2 separate regions of the Homo sapiens genome follow, and region 1 is linked to region 2. The links come from fine-mapping of genetic effects on gene expression. Tissue or cell type: whole blood. Region 2 holds a variant in brackets; the other region holds the start of a gene. Each region is shown on its reference strand, or each on the opposite one.

Evidence for each region. PIP is the estimated chance that this variant, and not a neighbour inherited with it, causes the effect. A credible set is the group of variants that fine-mapping cannot tell apart.
Region 1: TNFRSF18 starts here. The variant in region 2 is the best candidate, but not a certain one, in a credible set for the expression of TNFRSF18 in whole blood (TOPMed, PIP 0.67).

Annotation. Positions count from the first base shown.
Region 1 is chr1:1,205,105-1,207,997 of GRCh38, reverse strand. It overlaps TNFRSF18 (TNF receptor superfamily member 18), which reads left to right and starts at 1,406. Exons shown (of 5, transcript NM_004195.3): 1 at 1,406-1,613; 2 at 2,506-2,628. The coding sequence starts at 1,427. RefSeq lists a silencer at 2,623-2,823.
Region 2 is chr10:92,689,267-92,692,159 of GRCh38, reverse strand. It overlaps HHEX (hematopoietically expressed homeobox), which reads right to left and starts at 2,205. Exons shown (of 4, transcript NM_002729.5): 1 at 1,813-2,205. The coding sequence starts at 2,173. RefSeq lists an enhancer at 87-894 and silencers at 1,425-1,574, 1,585-1,664, 2,085-2,404, 2,475-2,714. The variant C/A (reference allele first, on the strand shown) is at 1,684.

The DNA of each region.
Region 1 (2,893 bases), not on the chromosome of region 2:
GGATTACAGGCGTGCGCCACCACGCCTGGCTAATTTTTTTTGTATTTTTAGTAGAGACGGGCTTTCTCCATGTGGGTCAGGCTGGTCTCGAACCCCTGACCTCAGGTGATCCGAGGCCCACCTCGGCCTCCCAAAATGCTGGGATTACGGGCGTGAGCCACTGATGGCGCCTCTTTCTATCCAGGGGCCCAGACCCCCTCCCAGCCTCGGGGCTGAAGATCTCCAGGCCTCTCAAAGGCCCCCAGGCCCAGCTGGCCCCACCCCTTTCCTTCCGAGCGTCGGGGCGGCCTGGAGCTGCAGAGACCCCTTCCTTCTCTGCAGTGTCTGAGGGCTGCCTCTCCAAGGCAGGCTCCTACATCTTGGATTTGAGAACTCCGGGGTGTCACAAACAGCTAATTCCTGTCATTTACCTTGGAAAAGGAGGAACCGCCTTACGGGGTGAGGCGGTGGCTGCAGGTCTCAAAAGGGTGTTGAACCACATCCACGCTCACGTTCCCGAGAGCCCCCACCCCCAGCATTCATGGGGGTCTCCACCTGTGCTGGACGGCGCAGAAGCAGGGCTGGGCAATCCAGGGAGGCTTCCTGGTGGAGGCAGGGTCCCAGAACCCCTCGGTGCCCACAGGGGAAACTGAGGCTCAGAAAGACATAGGACAGTCTCCCAAGAGCTCTGCGAGGGGCTCCTCCTCAACTCCCTCCGGGACCTGGATCTGTCTGGTGTGACGGATGAAGGTGGCTCTGAGAGACCGGGCCCTGGGTGCCCGCGGGGGCGGCTGACACTGTCCCGAGGAGGCGCCAGCACCCTCTCGTCTCCCCACCAGCTCCTCCTGGTGCCCCTCCCAAGCCCCGGGGAACTTCCCAGGTTGGCCTGAGGGGGGTCCTGGAGAGCTGCAAGCAAGGGGGAGGGGAGCCCACAGGCCTGCAGCCCATGGTGAGTTTCACACCTGAAGCCAGCCAGGTGGGGTGTGCTGAGCCGAGGGGTCCCTGTCCCCATTCTGTGGGGTTCCCCAGCACGGGGCTCCATGGTTGAGGCTCTCTGGGGGTGGCCAGAATTTGTGGAGACCTCTCGGGGACTCGCAGATACCACCCGGAGGCAGTGGGATGGAGGAGTGATTGGCTGACCCCCGCCCTCCAAGGGGCCCCCATGGGACAAGGTGCTATAAACGCCGCCCCCTGCACTGGGGACACCAATGTGGCCGCAGACTTTGCATAGAAAACCTTTCTGATCCCCGCCAGCCTGGTTTCCCCGCCCCTGCCGGCGACCTGCGGGGGACCGGGCTGTGTCCGCAGTGTCTACACCCCCTCCTCACACGCACTTCACCTGGGTCGGGATTCTCAGGTCATGAACGGTCCCAGCCACCTCCGGGCAGGGCGGGTGAGGACGGGGACGGGGCGTGTCCAACTGGCTGTGGGCTCTTGAAACCCGAGCATGGCACAGCACGGGGCGATGGGCGCGTTTCGGGCCCTGTGCGGCCTGGCGCTGCTGTGCGCGCTCAGCCTGGGTCAGCGCCCCACCGGGGGTCCCGGGTGCGGCCCTGGGCGCCTCCTGCTTGGGACGGGAACGGACGCGCGCTGCTGCCGGGTTCACACGACGCGCTGCTGCCGCGATTACCCGGGTAAGTAAACCGCGTTTACTTAACGCGGACCGGCCAAGGCGTCCCGCGGAAGCCGGGATGGGTGGGCGCCCCCCTTCCCGTGCTCAGACCGGCGTTGCTGAGGTCTAAGGAGGGTGGGCACAGAGCCGCCAGCAGCGGGAGCCTTCCGGAGGGAGGCAGGATCCCAGAGGGAGGCGGAGGTGTGCCAGCTCCAGCCAGTGGCCCCGGCCGGGAGCAGGGGTGAGCCAGGTGGGAGCGCCCTCAAGAGGGGTCTGGGGTCTGGAGGTGGAGGACGGCTGTTCCAGGTCCTGCTGGGCGGGTCGTGAGCCCTTGGCCATCGCCCAGCCCCCTCCTGCCCAGTTGAGGGCCCCCCTGCACCACCGTCTGGCCTGCTGCCTGCCTCTGACCTGCACCTGGGGATGAGGGTTCAGCTGACACGGCTGGTCTGGAGAGGAAGCTGGCAGGGAAGTCACCCCAGAGCTTCTTCCTCCAGGGCCTGTGGGTTGGGAAGGGAGGCTCTGTCCGGAGGCCCAGTGTGGCTGGTGGTGGGGACAGCAGCGCCCAGACACCAGGCAGGCGGCCTCTGAGGTGTCGACGGGCCTCCAGGGGACTGTGCACTGTTGGGGGCCACCCCTGGGTCCTGCAGGGGCAGCTCCTGGTTGCATATGGAGTTAGCACCTGGGCAGGGGCAGCTGTGGGGCGCAAAGGGGGAGTAGCCAGGCCACATGGCCCCAGGAGAAAGAGACAGCTGGATAAACCCAGGGTCCAGACTCCCAGCCAGGAGCCCTCTGCTCCCTGGAGCCAACTGTGGGTGGAGAACGGACAACCTCACTCCCCTGGAGGGCCGAGGGGAGGCCTGGGGAGGAGGGGGCCTCAGCCCAGCTGCTGGGGGGCTGGCCTGTCTCCTGCCCAGGCGAGGAGTGCTGTTCCGAGTGGGACTGCATGTGTGTCCAGCCTGAATTCCACTGCGGAGACCCTTGCTGCACGACCTGCCGGCACCACCCTTGTCCCCCAGGCCAGGGGGTACAGTCCCAGGGTAAGTCCTGGAGGTGCCTCTGGGAGTCCACACAGGCCAGGGGTTCCACTAGGGCCCGAGGCAGAGCTCGTGGGCACAGGTGTCCGGCGAGGACATGTGGTGTGTGGGGTCCGGAGTCCTGTGAGGCCGGGCAGGCCAGGCCATGCTCAGGCACCACAGGCCATGAAGCTCTGGGGGTGTCCTGTCCCTGCTTTCTCAGCCTGGGCTTCTCCATCCAGCACGAGGGCTGTGAGAACCCTGCGGGGAGGTGGGGGCGGGTTCCAGG
Region 2 (2,893 bases):
GCCTTGTACACACACAGACAGACACACAGCCGTCACACCTAGAACTAAATCCAGACATACCTTTAACCCCAAAAAGAATGGGCACTACCGGCTGGGCTTACAATACCACGACCCTCTTTCCCCAGTGGCTCTCGGATTTATACATAACTTTTTGCCCCCTTGGATCTCCCTTGGTGAGCCGCACTTGCGAACACCGGGTGTGTGCGTGTTGGGGAGGAGCGGGGCTGCTGCACCGACAAGGCCTGGCTGCGCGGGAAGCGCTCGGGCCCGGACACCCGCATTAGGTTGCGCGAGGAGCCTCCAATCCTGGCCGGGGGAGCCGCGGCCTCCTCTGATTTCACACCCAGCCCGCGGGGGCGGCCAGTTAAAGCCACCCCATGGGCTATGGCAACATTTCCGTCAATGTGTTTCCTGTTGGTCTAGCTCGAAAAACTCTTTGCTTCCTCCTGCGCGGTCCCAGCAGTAACCCAAGGAAACTCAGGGCGCACTGTGAAAACGTTAGCCCCCAGGCCCGGCCCGGCTGAGGGTCCCGCTCCAGCCCCGACAGGCGACCACAGCCAGGCTCGGGCCGCATCATCAAACCCTCGAGGCTGGAATCAGACAGACAGGATAACAACTCAAAAACATAAAAAGATGAACTAAAAATACAATCCCCCTCCCCTGTTAACGGTGAGAAGGTAAGGTAAAGGGCTGAGCTAGAGCCCGCGCCGTAATAATGGAGACATTAAAATGCTAATTAAGACGTTAATTGTTTTCAGGGTCCCTACTGAAGCTTCCAATAACAGAGTTCATTTAAAACTCTAGAGGCGCCCCGTTTCCTTATTTACCCTAGGGCTCCAGACCTCGAAGGCGCCAAGGGTCACCCACAGCGCGGACCACGGGCGGCTTATTTGTTAGGCCGCACATTGAGGGGACAAGCCCCGAAGTTCTGGAATATATGCCCTATGTGTCCCTGCTTCCCTTCCTAACTGGCGACCAGGAGCTGCTGCTTCCTACTCCCAAAGTAGTGTCGGTCGGTCCGTCCGTCCGTCTGCAGGCCTGCACCTCAACGCTTTGAAAGCTAGCATTGTTTTTTCGAGATTTTGCTTGCGTCAGGCTTCAGACTGGTGCAAAACAGCCTCGAAAAAAAATAGGAAGCAACTGGTTATTTTAGCTGCCATAAAGTCACATCCCACACAGAGGAAATGAACAATATCAGAAAAACGGATCCCGGCTATCAGAAGTCGAGTGTTTCCTGAATTTGTCTGTATTGAGGATGTCGATAAAATAATCAGCAGCGTGCACTACTCCGGGGGAAGGGTCTGCTTCATGCAGCCAGGAAAACACTTAACAGCTTCTGAAACCAGATTTACTCCTATCGAGAACTCAAGATTTCCTGTATGAACGGAAAGGGTCAGGCTCTTTCACTGCACAAGCCTGTTGAACCAGGTCCAGCCCCGTAGCCACCCGGGCCCGGCTGCGATCCCTGCCCCACGGGGGCCGGCCAGGGGCGCCTCGACGCCCCTTTCCCCGTCCCTCCCGCTAAGGGAGCCCCACCCCGGGTAACACGCGCGGTCCACGGCTGCCCTCGCCGCGAGGTCTACCGCCGGCCCGCGCGCCCCGACGCCTGCAAGGTGCAGGAAAACCAATCTGAGTCACGGTGCGGTCAGCCCCGGCCGCGCGCCTCCCGTCCCCGCGCGTGCC[C/A]GACAGCTGCTTTTCCATCGCTTTTGCCACAGCCGTCTACCGCCTGCCCCCTTCGCCCCCTCGGCCTCCCGGGCGCTGCCACCTGCCGGGTGGCGCTTCCTCGCCCCCACCCTCGCCCGGCCGCCTTACCCAGGGGGTCGTGGCGGAGCAGGGCGTGCGTGTAGTCGTTCACCGTCCGCGGGAAGGGGTACAGAGGGCCCCCGAAGCCGCCGGGTCCGTAGGCAGCGGCCAGCGCGGCGGCGGAGTGGTGCGAGAAGGCTGGATGGATCGGCGTGGGCTCGTACACCGGGGTCCGGTAGGGGGACACGAGGCTGGTGAAGGAGGAGTTGGGGGACGGCAGCGTGGGGGCGGGCGTGGGCGCGGCGGGCCCGCGGCCCAGGATGTCCTCGATGTAAAAGGGCGTCGGGTGTGCGGGTTGCAGCAGCGGCGTGGGCGCGTACAGCGGCACCCCCACGGCGCCCGCCGCCGGCCCGGGGTGCGGGTACTGCATGGCTCCGCCGCGCTCCGGCCCCTCGCAGAGCTGCTGGCCCGCGCCGCGGCGCTACATTTATCCGCGCTCCGCGCTCCCGGCGATAGGCTCCGCCGGCCGCGGGGTGGGGCCGCGCTCGCTGGCCCCTTCCTGCCGCCGGGCCCTGCGGCCAATGGCGCGGGGCCCCAAGAGCAGCCGCCCGCCCCCACCCCGGCCCGCCCCGCCGGCCAAGCTCCCCGCCCCCGGGACGCGCTTGCTACCAGGCTCCGGGGAACTGGCGCCCTGGTGCCCCGCCGCGGCTGTCGCCCCTGGGGACTCCAGGCACCCCGGCCGAGGACGCCCTCGAGGGAAGCCCTGGGCCGCGTCCGTCGGGGGAGGCGCGAGGAAGACCGCCTTCTGGAGTGCGGGCTCCAGCGGCCCTGTCCGCGGCCCCGAGGCACCTCTGCCGAAATTCGGGGGCGCCGTCCAGGCCTGGGCCCGGGGTGGCAGCAGCTGTTTCCAGGCGGGGAGCAGCGGGACTCGGCGGGAGCAGAGGCCGCTGGCCTAAGACGCCTCCTCGGTGGGTGCGCTCCCTGGATTAACAGTGGCGCTGGCTGTCACACCGGCCGTTTCCCGAGCTCAGAGCGGGACAGTGCCCTGGGTTCCTAGGGCTGCTCGGCGGCCCTTAGCTGCGGCCCGGCGGGATTCGGATGGCTGGAGTTCAGGTGCTGCGGACTCTTGGCCGCTCCACCTGGTTTCATT